Linked DNA regions of Homo sapiens. The protein of the gene in region 1 purifies or fractionates together with the protein of each later gene. This does not show direct contact. Each region holds a gene or a part of one and is shown on either strand. Other genes may lie near its edges.

The links. Proteins that work in one complex are often made in the same cells at the same time.
Region 2: the proteins of SLC22A23 (region 1) and PAXBP1 purify together in Homo sapiens (affinity purification with mass spectrometry; 2 studies listed by BioGRID and IntAct, with this or other methods). This does not show direct contact.

Annotation. Positions count from the first base shown.
Region 1 is NC_000006.12:3,271,628-3,279,742, forward strand, and holds part of SLC22A23 (solute carrier family 22 member 23), read right to left. Parts: intron 1,786-8,115; coding exon 1,428-1,785; 3' UTR 1-1,427.
Region 2 is NC_000021.9:32,754,756-32,761,999, forward strand, and holds part of PAXBP1 (PAX3- and PAX7-binding protein 1), read right to left. Parts: intron 6,408-7,244; coding exon 6,304-6,407; intron 5,240-6,303; coding exon 5,022-5,239; intron 4,515-5,021; coding exon 4,325-4,514; intron 3,934-4,324; exon of another isoform or gene 599-3,933; coding exon 475-598; exon of another isoform or gene 1-474. UniProt on the Homo sapiens protein: Adapter protein linking the transcription factors PAX3 and PAX7 to the histone methylation machinery and involved in myogenesis.

The DNA of each region.
Region 1 (8,115 bases):
CCAGTAAGAAGCCAGGCTGTCCAGAAAAGCTGGTGCCCAAGTTGCTACAAAGTGGTGCCTGCCCTTGCCAAGGAGGCTGTCTCTTAGTCGCCTTGGGTGTCCTACAAGTTTCCTCCGAAAATGCCAAGAGGAAACCTCCACTTTCTGGGGTGAAACGAGGAACACGAAGAGACCCATGGAGGTCGAGGCAGGGGCAGCGTTGAGCTTTGGTGAGTTATTGCTTTCTTTCAATTTGTCTTGATGCCTTCGAGAGGCTGGAGGTCATTTGGACTCACCTATGAGGAATCTCCGCTCCCTGCCCGAAGCCCCACCTCTGTGCTATGCGAGTGACTGCAAGCAGGAAGCTGGCCCAGGAAGGCAGGCGTGAGGGGGCCCAGCTCCTGCGGGTGCTCCCTGGAGTGATGTCTGAGGTGACGGCCATCCAAGCTGGTGATCTTCATGGTGTGTGCTCAAGGTGTGGGTGACGGGCGTGTGTGTGTGGAGGGCAGCCCCCCTTCTGTGGATTTGCCTCTGCCATCTTTTTGAGTTATTTTCTAATGGTTTGTAGCTTAGAAAGTAGCCATGTTTTCAAGTAGTGCCGGCACAAGAGCTGCCTGTGCACGAGGGACTTTTCTGCTGGAGCCAATCTGGGAGAGGAGGAATAAAAACGAGCACATCTCAGGTCTCGACGCATCTGTTAGCTGTGTACTCACAAAGCTGTGGCGATATGACTGCTGCTCAATTAAGATTTCTGGTGAAATGTTTAAGCTTTTTCTCCAAGAGCTTCCAGCATCAAGTACAAAAGGATGATCCTGAAGGAAAGATGAAGCTGGTTTTAACGGCGTCTGTGAGCTGCTTTCCCTGCACACGAACAGAAGCTCTTACCTTACAAACAGAAAGGGAAAAAGGACCTTAAAAAACCATACACAGACTCTAGCAAAAGCCAAATTCATGTACATTTCACTCCGTCTAAAATGCAGTCCCGGAAACGCTCCACGGTCCTCTCCTGCCTCTGCACGCAGGCAGGCAGCCTGGGGGGCTCCTGGGTGCTGCCAGGAGCCGTGTCCCATCTCCCCAGAGGGACCGGCCATGGCCCTGGTCACTGTGGCATCTTCCCAGAGCAACTGCGTCTCGCTGCCCAGGGAGGTGATTCCATTTGTGATCAGTGAGAGGGAGAGGGAATAAAGTGCTTCTCGTAAAAATGACCAAAATAAATACACACATTTAACGGCAGAAAAGAAAGTCTTGAAAGGGTTATTTCCAAAGAGTTTGTCTCCTCCGACCCGCGCTCCTTGGACTTTTGGAAAGACAGGATTTCCCCACACCAGTTGAGAGGCTCAGCTTGGCTGAGGCAGCTTTCCCACCCCTGGCTGCGTGTTCGGTCCCTGGTCTGTAAACCTGTGCCCAAGCTGCCCCAGACCCTGGAGCCCCGGGTTCCGCAGGCCGGGCTACATGGCCTTCATGCCGTTGGCCGTGGCACCCTCGGGCAGTGTGTCACCCGCGGCTGCGGCATCGTGGAGGCCCGAGTAGTCCTTGAGCTCGGCGTTGGTGAGCAGCAGTGGCTGCTCCCCCTTCTTGTGCGGCAGCAGCGGCTGGCGCGTGTAGTGCTCCCCGTTAGAAATGTTCTCAGGCAGGTTCTGGTCCCTGCTCTCGGGCAGCAGGAGGATGCAGATGATGCAGATGAGCGTGCAGCAGGCAAAGATGATGTGGTGCAGGAAGTAGCCTTTCTGGTTGTGCAGCTCGATGATGGGTGCCGTCAGCATGCCGAAGCCCGCGCTGGCCAGCACCAGCCCCAGCCCGCCACACCTGCAGGGGGAGGGAAGCACAGGGATTGCTGCTGTGGGCTAGCGGGCTGGATCCCGGGAAAGCTCGGGGTGGACCAGGAAGCCACCTCTGCAGGGGCCCTGCTGCCCTGGGCACTGCCCAGTATACCCCGACCTCACACGTCCCATGTCACCAGCACCCTGGCTGTGTCTGTACAAGGCCACTCTACGGCAGTGACTGTTTTTCCTCATCAAATCAAAAGCTTTTACTTAATTTATCTTTTTCTTTAATGTTTCCTATTTTTATTGTTTTTTCAGGGCTGGGGACCATGAGAACTTTATTTTGAAAGGCAGCCTTATATAATACTACTGTAAATGGGAAGCTGATATTACTTGCCATAAGTAGTATACAAGGAAAAACAAAAGGGATTGAAATTATGCCATTTCCTGAAGGCCTGGGGGATTACCAAGGGTTAAAGAGGGTACTAAGGACATACCAACACGAACAGAGACTTTCTCTTTGTCATAACTGGAGAGACTGCAAGATACTTTAAAAGAGTAGTTTCCTCACTGTGAGTTGATGGCCCACGTGTCTCCTGAAATTGCTCACATACCACCATTGGAAACGGTCCCATCTCTGAGGATTGTGCCTGAAGGGTCCCCCAAATGAAGCTGTGCACTGACAGAGAGGAACTCACTGCAGCTCTGAGCTCAGGATAACCAAAGTCCAGAAGGCAAGCCATTGATTTCCACTCCCTGCCTTGTACGGGAGCAGCCAAGAGTCCCAGGGATTAGTAGATACGCAAAACTTACAGAACCCCTATCCCTCAAACCTCTCCACTTTGACCTAAAAACACATTACTGGGACAAAGGTGTTCTGTGGCCCCTGAGAAAGCAGTGCTGTACCAGGCTGCAGTGGGACCGTGGCGCTCAGGTGTCAGGCCAGGCTAGAGAGGGCTGCCTGGTCCCCAGTTCTGGGGCCTCATTGAAGGAGGTAGGCAGAGGTGGCCTTGTCTCAAGGAAGAGGGAGTGGAGTTGTGTGCCTCGCTCCACAGCAGCAGGTAGACTGGTCCTTTGGTTTGGGGAAGCTTTCTAATGGGCTGCTCGTTAGGCACCCCCTTGAAGTGAAGAGGGCTGTATCCTTTGAACTGCTGAGGCTGAGTGGGCTGAAAGGGAGGTCCCTGCAACAGGTAGGAGGCAGGTAGATAACTCCAGCTCTTGACTAGTCTGTGGTTCTCTTGGTTGGCACTATAGGTAGCTCCTAACTCACCAAAAGACTGTCCTACAAGGTCACAAGATAAAAGATCAACATACAAAAGTCAATTATATGTCTACGTGCTAGCAACACCCAAAAATGAAAATGCCATTCACAATAACATCCAATGAATAAAATGTTTAGAAATAAATAACAAAGGAATGCAAGACTTGTATGCTGAAAAAGATAAAACATTGCTGAAAATTAAAAGATAAAAATAAATGGAGTGACATTCCATGTTCATGAATTAGAAGACTAAATATTATAAAGATGGTAATTTTTCCCAAATTGATCTATACATTCCACATAATCCCTATCAAAATTCCAGGTGACTTTTTTTTTTTTTCAGAAAACAGCCAATTCTAAAATTTATATGGAAATGCAAAAGACTCAGAGTAGTCAAAAACAATTTTGGAAAAGAACAAAGAAGGCTTGCCTTCCCAGTTTCAAAACTATAAAGCCATACGGCTTAAGGCAGTGTGGTGTTGGTGTATATATCAATAGATCAATGGAACAGAACTGGGAGTTCAGAAACTAACCTTCACATTTATGGTCAACTGACTGTAGATGGAGGCAAATCCAGTGAGGGGGAAGGGATAGTTTTTTCAACAGGTGGTGCTGGGACAACAGGATATTCATGTGCAAAAGAATGATGTTGGACCCTTCACATCATGTAAAAAAATGAACTCAAAATGGATAATAAAATCTAAGTGCTTAACTTAGCTCAAACTATAACGCTTCTAGAAGAAAACAAGAGAAAAGCTTTATGACGTTGGGTTAGGCAAAGATTTCTTACACATAACATCAAAAGTAGGATCCATAAAAGAAAAAGCTGATCAATTGGACTTCATTAGGATTAAAAACTCCTACCCTTCAAAAGATACATGTTTAAGAAAAAAAGACCATAGACTGGGAGAAAATATTCGTGAAGCATATATCAGATAAAGGACTTGTAACTAGAATATATAAAGAACTTTTTTTTGAGAGTCTCACTGTCGCACAGGCTGGAGTGTAGTGGCATGATCTCGGCTCACTGCAAGCTCTGCCTCCCAGGTTCATGTCATTCTCCTGCCTCAGCCTCCTGAGTAGCTGGGACTATAGGCGCGTGCCACCATGCCCAGCTAATTTTTTGTATTTTTAGTAGAGTCGGGGTTTCGCTGTGTTAGCCAGGGTGGTCTTGATCTCCTAACCTCGTGATCCACCCGCCTTGGCCTCCCAAAGTGTTGGGATTACAGGCGTGAGCCACCACGCCACTCTTATAACTCAAAAAGAAGACAGATAATCCAGTAAAAAGATGGGCAGGCCAGACACAGTGGCTCATGCCCAAAGAGGCTTGGGCAAAGGTGACCTGGGCAGGGAGGATGGGAGTCCCAGGGTTCCCAGGTGGCCCTCATAAACCAGATATACACAGGTCTATGCTAATAACCCCAGGAAGATTCACAGATTTGGAGCCTTTTTCTCAGAATGCAATGGAAGAATGGTGATTGTGTGTGTGTGTGTGTGTTGGGGGCTTTTGTCCTGTAACAAAATAAGAGAAGACACTTTGCTCTGCCTTTTCTCCCTCTAATGTAGAAATGACTGCCTCTCTGTTGGTTGCAGTCCACCCATCTGCATCCACCATGGGCACAGGGCTTGGGGGCACAAGGGCAGCCTTGCCAGGCTTGCAGCCCTAGGGGACAAAGACTCGCTGGATTCTTCCCTTTCCCAGCTCCTTCCTGTCCAGCCCATGACCAAGTCCTCAGGGCCTCCACTCCAGGCCGCCTGGGTCTGCGCTCCTCCCTGGCGCATCTTCTGCACCCCCTAGACTTTGTTTCCTCACCATTGCCAAACCGATTTTCCTAGAACACAGAGCTAATCATATCACCTGGCTGCTCAGAGTCCTCCAATGGCTCCCTCCTGCCTGCAAGGTGATGCACAGGTCCTGGGGGCCCCACCTCTTCCTCCTGTCCTCTGCCTTTCAGTCCCAATACTCATGGCACCGGGGTCCCTCAGCTCTGTCTGGTGCTCGCTCTGTGAGGTTGGCCTATGCTGGCTCAGCCGAGCTCCCACAGGCTACCTGGGTAGGGCGCCGTCTGTGCATTTCTCGAGGAAGGAGATGCCTTCTGGTACAGGGTCTTCGTTAATGTTTATTCCATTAGATGATTGTCAAGACTGGGGCATCAGCCATTAGCCTCCAAGCCTTGAGTAAACCCACATAAAAAGAGCCAGCCCAAAGTGAGCTACAGAACAGACTTTTGCTGCCACAAAGGTGCGAGTGCCGTGGCTGGGAGCAGGAGTTCTGGAGCCCATGAGCCTGGGCTAGAATCCTGGCCCCCGCCCACCAGCTTCACTTCCCGAAGCCTCGGTCTGCATCTATAAAACAGGGATGAGAAAAGCTCCAATGTCCAAGTGCAGTGGAGGTTAAAGCACGAATGTGACTAGCATGGGGACAGGAAGATCCGTGGCTTGATTGGTTCCAGGTGGCATCCATTGAGTGCCGGGAAGGGGCCACCCAAGTCTTTCAGGGTCTAGGGGGCAGCTGGGTGTAGGAGGAACCAGAGCTGGAGAGGTTCAAGAACTGGGAGGCGAACAGGATGAGCCTCTCCCATGGGCCTAAAGCCTCCAGGCATGACATGGAGTCCTAAAAGTTGGCAGAGGGGGCTGTGCCACTGGGACCCTTCTCCTCCACCCTGGCCTTCCTCTCGGTGAGGCACCAAGCTCTGCAAACACTGCCTCCTCAAGCTGCTTCACACCCGCCCACCCTCACCCTTCCAGGAACCTCTGCTCCTGCTCCCCGAGCCCTAGGAATCCAGCCTCACCTCCTCCCGCCGCAGTGCACTTGCCAAACACGCATCGCCTCTAGAGCCACTATGTGCGGGCTCCAGGCCACATCCTGGGAATCCCGTCCCAGCCACCCTTCTGAGTCCAGACTGAGCAGGCTCTCTTGGGCACTTCCCCTGCATCCTCAGGACACTTGTGTAGCCCGAAGACACATTCGCATTGCGTGTCTGTGTGTCTCTAATAGACACCAGATGTTTCCAGGGCAGGACCAGGCTCCACTCCGTGTGCTGTCCCCAGCACCTGCCCAGCCACTGAGACCTGGCTGGCACCTGGGCATCTACTCAGTGCTATAGTCGGATTTCTAGACTGGCCCCAGTAATTCCCACCCTTGTGCCTTGAGTGTGCGCTGGCCCTCAAGGTACAAGGTACAAATAACGTACTTTTTAGCAATCAAATTTACGGCCAGGATAGTGAGATGTTCCTTCCACAACAAGGTTCCAAAAGGCAGATTCTAGCAGACTCTTGCTAGCTTTGACGAAGCGAGCTGCCTTGTGACTGTGGTCCCTATGGCCAACGGCCAGCAAGGAGCTGAGGCTGCCAGCCCCACAGCCCGTGAGGAAACAGCCTACCAGTGCCTGACTTGGTTTAGTGGTGGGCCCTACCCACTGATGGTAGCCTCTGAGAGACCTGGAGCAGAGGACCCAGCCAGGCCGTGCCCAGACTCTGGAGCCATGGAAACCATAAGATAGTAGATGCATGCTACTTCAGGCCCCTGTTTTGGAGCGATTGGTTATGCAGCAATAGAAAACCAAGATACTCGGTGAGTGACAGATTCCCCTGCCTTAGCCACGGAGGGAGACTGACAGCCACCTCTCATGCAGGCTGTGACAGGCATCAGCACTTCATATTAGAAAGCCCTTCCCAGGGAGAGGCTGAAAGAGTTGCAGGAATAGCCACACCACTGTGCTTCTGGGCCTGAAGACGATATGGATGAGGAAGAGCAAGAATTTGGGGGATGTCTCCCAGATACTCAAACTCCTCCCAGGCTGAGGGTCCCAGACCACCGTTCAAAGACACTCTGCATCTTTCTGTCACTATTTGTTCATGTGCCTGTCACCTTACTAGTCTCTGAGCCCTTCAAGGGCAAGAATTATTTTCTAGGACATCAACAGGCACGTGCTGTTTGTGCTTAATAAATACCGGATGCTTGCGGATCACACGGGCTTCCTGGATAGGAAGGTCAGCTCACCCAGGTGAATGGGACAGGTTAAATAGAGACAACCACGGAAATGAGCAATAAGACCAAATCCTTCTGTAAGATGAAGACTGAACACCTAAAATAGCCAATTAAGTCTTTCTGGTAGACCTGGCTCTTTCAGGAAGCCACAGGGCATATCAGATGCTAGGGATAATGGACATGATTTTAATGGGGACAGCATTTTCTCGGAAACCTCCCAGGTTTCTGCCTGACCTTCCCGGCACTAAATGTGGACGGCACTGACAAGCAGTGAGAGGACTCCCCTTACTCACACGGGAGTCACATACAGGAGGGCAGAGTACAGACCCCCAGGAGGGGTGGGCAGAGGGCCACTGTTAAAGGGCAAACTGCATGGAACAAAAGCCTTGCATTGTGCCTGGTGAACCACATCATACTGATCTATCTTGTTAACTGTGCCAAATAAAATGAAATATATTTAATTTGCAGATCATTAGAAAAATGTCTATGTATATGTATATACATAATATGCAACAAATGTACACATGCATATATAATATGGAATATATCTTTTTATTTTTTTCTGTGGGAGCAATTCTCTGGTTTTCTATCAAAGATTCCTTGATATGGCCGGGCATGGTGGCTCATGTGCCTGTAATCCCAGCAATTTGGGAGGCCGAGATGGGCAGATCACGAGGTCAGGAGATCGAGACCACTGTGGCCAACATGGTGAAACCCCGTCTCTACTAAAAATACAAAAATTAGTTGGGTGTGGTGGCGCGTGCACGTAATCCCAGCTGCTTGGGAGGCTGAGGCAGGAGAATCACTTGAACCAGGGAGTTGGAGGTTGCAGTGAGCCGAGATCACGCGACTGCACTCCAGCCTGGCAACAGAGCAAGGCTCCGTCTCAAAAAAAAAAAAAAAAAAAAAAAAAAATCCTTGACATCATTCAGTACGATTAGGAAAAATTTTGGCAGAAGTTGGTATGCCATTTTTGGCTTTGTTTTTTTTTCTCTCTTGAAATCTCAGAGAAAGAGATTGTTACATCCTTGGTTTTAAGGTGTTGGGTTCCTTTCCTGCCCCTGAAATGTGGGCTCTGCCAGTGCCTTTTCTGCTTTTCTCTGGGTTGTCACTAGAGGGCA
Region 2 (7,244 bases), on another chromosome or scaffold:
CTATCTTGGAGTTGTGTCATTTGTTAAGTTATAGCTTCCCTCCCCCTACCCACAACATGTCCCAGTCCCTAAACTCAAACTCTTTCACTGTGATCAACAAAAGCATTTATTTGTATTGGTGTTTTGAATGAAAATGGGGGAAAAAACCAATTAGGGCCAAACAGATAATGGTTTTAACATAAAATACGGATAATGTCTTTTCTATACTCTAAAGGAGAATGAAAAAATATGCCCAAAGAATAAGAAGACTGACAGAATCTTAGCACGTTTTTGAGCTCCTTTGTGAAGCTCTATTTTCTTAAACACAATTCAAGTACATGCTGTTACCATTTTTAGATCTACCTGACACAACAGCAAGGAAATTGTTTCTTTAAAAAAAAAAAAAAAAGCTCCAAGATCTCTAATTTTCAATTAGGCTGCACTAAGTAAACAAGGTTGTTTAATGAATAATAAAAACCTTCAAGATGGACTGACTTGAATGGCTTGAAAACTCCGAAGATTCATCTTTAATATCATCTTGTCGTCTTTGGACAAGGCGGGAAGCTCGCTGTTTGTACAGCTGATGTATTGCTGATTCAAGTTCATTAATCAGTGGCACCTGTAAAAATACAACACACTCCGTAACACCAAACTCCTCAGCTGCTTATTTATTTGAGGGTTCCATACTATTTCCGGATTTCTGAAAAAGTACCCTCTCTATGGACAGAATAATCATGAATCCCCAACAGCACACAAGTAGCAAATTCTGTTTTATGTTTGGGAAACGACACTTCTTCTTTTAATCCATGCATAGAGCTATAATGTCCAGTGCCTAGTTATTGGAGCAAACATTAGTTAAGAAATGTAACACTTCAGTATTCATAGAACAAGTAAAGAAATGTCAACAATTTTAGAGCTTTTCCCTTAGAGAATATTTAAGTACTTAGAAGTCTTTTTAATATCTATTTTTAATTTTCCAGCAGCATTATCTGCATTGCGATTTTTGTAGTTCAAAGTAAAACATTATCACTGTGTGGTACCAAAAAAGTGCAATGGCTCTATAAGTAGGTAAGAACAAGAGTCTGCTAATTCTCCAATTTTGGACATTTCAGTTGCTCTGCCACTCATATGTACCAAGTACGTTACAGTAATCTGTTTACTATTTTGTAGCTTTATTACAGATTTTTTAATGTAAACAAAATAATTACTAGGGCGAATAAAATTTCCAGCTATCACTAACCTCTCTGAACTCAATATATCTCAAATTTAAAAAGTTGTTCTCTTCCTGTCAAATGTTTAAATTCTCCCATATTTTATAAAAATTTCTTTACATGAATTGTGAACTTACAAAGTCAATAATTTTTCCAGGTTAATATCCCTAAAGCATTTACTTGATTCATATAGAATACAAAAGAACATGAGAGCTAACTTAAAACAGAAAACTTTCTTTTTCTAAATACCTTATGTTATAATCAAATGCTATGAGACTTTCACGTAACACTAATGACCACTACACATACCTGAGGAAACCAGAAATTCTAGTTTCCTGATGGTTAGTGCAAATGGAAAACACATTATTTAGAGTTTGGGAACACTGGCACCAAGTGTTATAGCAGCTTCCTGAACTGAACAGACTGCAAATGGAAAATAAAAAAAGGCAGGTGGAATACAGAGATGTCTGTAATAAAAGCAATTTTATATACTTGCATGATTCCATTGCAAAAGTAGCAAATGTTCACAGAAAGGTCAAACTAATGGAGTTATTTTGTTCTTTAATATGCCACACCATGGGCAACAATGTCCCCAAATCTGTAATGATTATCCTTGATAGCTGAGTCCAGAGACTCTATCATTAAAATTTATTATAATCTGATTTTTTTTTAGCAATTACTGCCACAACATTGCCATTTACACTTCCCCATGCCCTCATTTTTTTTTTTAAACCATGAAGTACTAAAGATAAATGAGCCTGAGGCATTCTTTTATCTTTTAATCCTAGAGATTGTTAAGCTTCCTGTACTGTAGGAACTACCCACCTAAGCTGGCATCATACAGAATATAATTTTGCAACATATAGTTAAGATTCTGACAATGTAGTTTTTCTCTTTAGGTTAACTGGAATGCCTTTTACCGGAGGTCCAGAGAAAAACTCTACTGAGAATAAAAGCCCTAAACAGACTGTGAGCTCTCATTCAAGTTTCTTAACAATATTGATTTATCTCAAGAGTCTGCACCGTGACAATTTCTTTATCCTCTCCAAACTCAAAACTCTCACCAATTATTACTATTTTAGGGCCAAAGTTAAGGCAAAGAACCCAAGAAAGATAATTACAGGGAAACAAAAACAATGGCAAGTTAAAATGATTTACAAATATTTAAAACTTCTTTAAAAACCACCTAAACTTTCATAAGCAAAGAGGAAAAAAAAAGGGATCTTTATCTTTTTACGGTTAACTCTGAAATATTATTATAGTATAATTATTCAAAGTATCCAATTATTTCTAAGTATCTCCAATATAACAATTTATATTATCAACTCAGCAGTACTTTTTTGTTTTTTCTTTATTTTTAAGATTATCTTCTAAAGATCTAAGCTGAGCAGTACTCTTAAAATGAAATACACATGAAAATGTTAGAATGAAATATAATACTCATCTTTAAATGAAGCTATGTCTACCTCTCTTTTAATTAAAACGTAGTCACTGTATAAGGTTTAAGATTTGTTCCAAAAAATCTAAGTGACTCTGTATAACCACATTAGCATAATCTGAAGTAAACTTCTCTAGGAACAAGGTAATCGAGATGAAATACACTAATAATTCAACAATTAAAAACTATAAACTAGGTTGTCCTACTTTTGGTATGATCTAGCTGATCATATTACTGTCAAATTTTTTAGAGTTGTGTTTGCAATTATGAATGTCTTAATTTACTCAAGAAAGTTCCGAAGCAAGCGCCAAGACACTTCAAGAAGCAGCTCTCCAGGGACAAACTCATAAAGCATAGTTTAAGAAAAAGATCCTTTCTCTAGTCACAAAGGTTATGAGACCAGCTCCCACCATGCCCACTGGGCTCAGAAGAGTTTTGCCAGTAGGAAGGACATGACTGTCAACTCTTGACACTTAGGTTCCACTTCCAATCTTGACTCCAGCTCCCGGCACAGAGGAATACAGACAAGCCTATACTTCTTCCCCACCCTAAGCAACTGATACACCACAAGTGGTATCATAACTCAGACTGCAGCTGCTTCTCCAGAAACCAGGTGATAAAGACAAAACATGAGAAACCCTACAGAGAGGACATGGTGAATGTTATCTCATCCTGAATCTGGCCACAGACTGACTGGAACCATTAAGACCCATCAGGAAGAAAGATCCATCAGGAAGACATAGTCTGGCAATGATCTTTTCCCAGCCATTGGTTTTAGGGTATTCAAGTAATCAACAAAGATAACAAAAGTTGAAATACATATTTAACCACACTATATGCTTACAGATTCTAAGCTAATCTACATAGCCAATAACAAAGGGAAATGTGCCTTCCAATCCAAAGTTCAGACAGGATATTTAAGGACCACAGTTTTAATTTTTTTTTTTTTAAAGATAAGGCTGCAAAGTCCACAAATGCTTATAAACCAGTGCCTCAACCAATACTTTTATCTTAAAGAAAAAAAATCAATTAGGAGGTCATTTGAGAAACTAGCTGTTTGCACCTAATTTTAAATGTAAACAATAAATAGTATAAGAATGCCAAACATTTTGTCAACTGACTATCCTATTGAAAAAAACAAACTTGGGAGAAATGAAACCTTAGAAAAAATGATATCCAATGAAATGGTTTCTGAAAGAAATCAAGCATAGGCTTACTTAGATAAAAACTATTAGCAACAATGGTAATCATCATCCAGGGTAAAAAAAAAAAAAAAAAAAAAACTAATAAAAATTTGCAACTTTATATGCATATTTAGAATTGCTTGTAGAAACGTTTAAAAATAAGTTTAAACCTGAACCAGAAAAGAAAATTTTATCAGATGAGTCCCTTATATTCTAAGAATTCAGCACAGGCCAATAATAATCTACCACCATATTGAAATAAGACTTTCCAAAGTCTTATTTAAATGTGCTTTAAGATATTATCTTTATTTCTGTTTTCAACAAAGGTATTATATTGCCCTTAAGAGATAATGCCACTAATGAAGTGAAGAAAAATGAAGCATGACTTTTCATCACTTCTAATGTTGAGTTCAGTGGGTACTTTCTGAGAATTATAGAATGTTCTACACAAGGCCATCTAGACCTCCCTAATTTTGCCTTATTCAAAGAGATTAGTATTTTTGCATTCTTACCTTTTCACTGAAACACTCAAGCAAGTCTTGGACATACCCTCGCATTTCTTGCAAAAATTTATACCGTTCACCAATACCCCCAGAAGACCCTTCTAATCTTTCAATAGCCCTGGTAGAGTCCACTCGGCTTTGCAGATGTTTCTCATGCTGCTGTCGATTTGTTTTGTGCAATTCTTTCATGGAGTCCAACCTTAGGAACACAAAAGGATAAATATAACACATTTACATCCAAAGGTCTATGGTGTCAGGACTCTTGCAATATTAAAATATGCATTTAGCTCCACTATTAGAACATAAAAATATTTGGAATGGCATCTTTTCCTCTGTACTGCTTTTTTTCTCAAAAAACAAAAAATGGCAGTTTACAGATTTCACAGTTTTGTGGGCTAACCAAAATCTCACTGTTTTGCTTTTCCCCCCATAGCGTGACTACACTTTTTCAGAGTCCAAGAGGTACAAACTCAGAAATGTCTTCAACAAGATCATGGAGTGGCATTTTTTATAATTTTTCGAGGCTTCCACAGAAGTAATCCAAGAAGGTAGCAGAACAAAGTATGAAGTCATCTTCTGTTTAGCTTTTGAAGCTGGGCCAGTGAATCTTCTTTGCTGATATTCTGCATCTGCTACCCCAGACTACATGTTGCCTGAGGGAACAGAAAGCTAGCGGACAGGTCTTTAAGAAGTTGATCTGCCCTACCTGTCTTTAAGCTGTTTCTTTACCAAATCAATAGTAACGGGAGTCATCTCATTACTGGGAGTTTTGAAAGGGACTGTATTATCTGTTTTTTGAGATTTGGCATCTGATGATCCATAGGCCGTATAACTATAAGGAATGCCATAGGATGAGCCGTAAGGCATTGTCTGGTAAGTGTTCTGGTAGTACATATTCACTTCTGCGGGTTGACTGGCTTGAACCTAGAAAAGAAATGGGATATAGATGAAATCTGGTAGTTAAAACTTTGAAAATAATAATATGCCTTTAGGGTTAAAAAATCAACAGCAAAAATTATACCTATTTGCCAAATATTATGTAATAATTGCAGAATTCTTCAAAATTAGATAAAAGCAGGATTGAATGAATGTCCTATCTCTTGGTGGAATCACTAAATTTATTTCTAATAATTTTCAGAAAAACAGAGTTCAGAGTTGGAAGAAACATCAAAAATCATTTAAGGCCACCTTTGATCAATGAAAGAGGATAAATGCCTTGCCCATGGTCACAGAATCAATGGGCAACCAGAGATTAGAATCTAAGACTCCTGACATCCAGTCCAAGACTTTCTCTATTGTGCCATTTTCTTAACTTCACCCAAATGTATGCGAATTCTGCCTCAAAACACTATTAACAAAAATAGGTTTACGTTTATGCAATTTTTCTCACTGTATTACTTACTTTTATAAAACAAATTGTTATAACTGGGAAGATATTTTTCATCGATCTCAAGTTTTTTGTATTATTGAGAAATCCATCTTCTTCAAAATAATTCTTAAAGTCCAAAAAAATAAGCTACACGCACAAAAACATTCCATTTAAAGCAATGGTTCTCAAACTTTAGTGTGCATCAGAATCACCTGGAGGGCTTGTTCAACAAAGATTGCTGGCCCCACCACCCCAAGCTTCTGACTCTGTAGGTCTCTGGGGGCTGATAATTTGGTAATTTGCGTTTCTAATGAGCTACCGGGTAATGCTAATGCTAACTGAAGGACCACTTTGAGAAAAACTCATCTAAGAAATTGGAAATTCCTCCATCATTCTGACTGCAAAAAGCCGAACACACTGCAGTTTCTTCTAAAAGCCTACGTGTCTCTGTGTGCGTGCGTGCGTGTGTGTGTGTGTGTGTGTGTGTGTGTGTGTCTCCTCATGGGATTTTGTTACTTGAAATGAATGACAAAGATTCAATACGGAATTTTTTACTTTAACAAAATAAAAAAGGCTTTTTAATCTACTTTTAATTTTTAGTTTAATTCTTTTGTCGTACCTGAGGGATATTAATTCCTTTCCTTATCTGCTCCTGTTCCCATCGGCTGAGCTCTTCATCCTGTTCTCCAGTTACTAAAGCATCATCATCACTCCCCTCAATTCCTACAGCCATGAGCAACAAAGAAAAGTAAGTAACACCCAAAGAGCAAAGAGGTAAAAGATGCTGTCCTGACATTTCACAAGAACTGAGCAAAACTATTAACTCAATCTTACTAAAATGTCTAATATGATCTCCTCTCTCATTTGGTAGTCCTGACTTTGCCTGTTTTAAACACAGTATTCCTTGAAGCTAAAGGCAGTATTAATGTAATAGTTAAAATCTTGGATGTGTTTCTTAATCTCTGTAAACTTGACATCAACAAAGGGAACAAAATCTAATGCCTCCTAGGAATATAGAACTATATGAATTTACGCATGTAAACTGCTAAGCACAATACCAGCTGCACAATAAATGTTCAATGAACATGAGTTATCACAATGATATTAGTTTTTAAAAATTCCAATAAAACACTTGTACCCAAGAATAGTCCTCTAACATAAAATTTAGTAAGTCTAAATACTTTTTACTTGACTATAATATCAAATCACATTTAATAGCATTAGAGGCCATGCATGGTGGCTCATGCCTGTAATCTCAGCACTTTGGGAGGCTGAGGCATGGTGGCCCATGCCTGTAATCCCAGCACTTTGGGAGGCTGAGGCATGGTGGCTCATGCCTGTAATCCCAGCACTTCGGGAGGCCAAGGCAGGAGGATCTCTTGAAGCCAAGAGTTAAGACACCAGACACAGTGAGACCCCATAACTACAAAAAAATTAAAAATAAAAAAATTAGCCAGGTGTGGTGACGCACACCTGTAGTCCCAGCTACTCGAGAGGCTGAGACAAGGGTGACTGTTTGAGTCCACGAGTCAAGACACTGCAGTGAGCTATGATTGTACC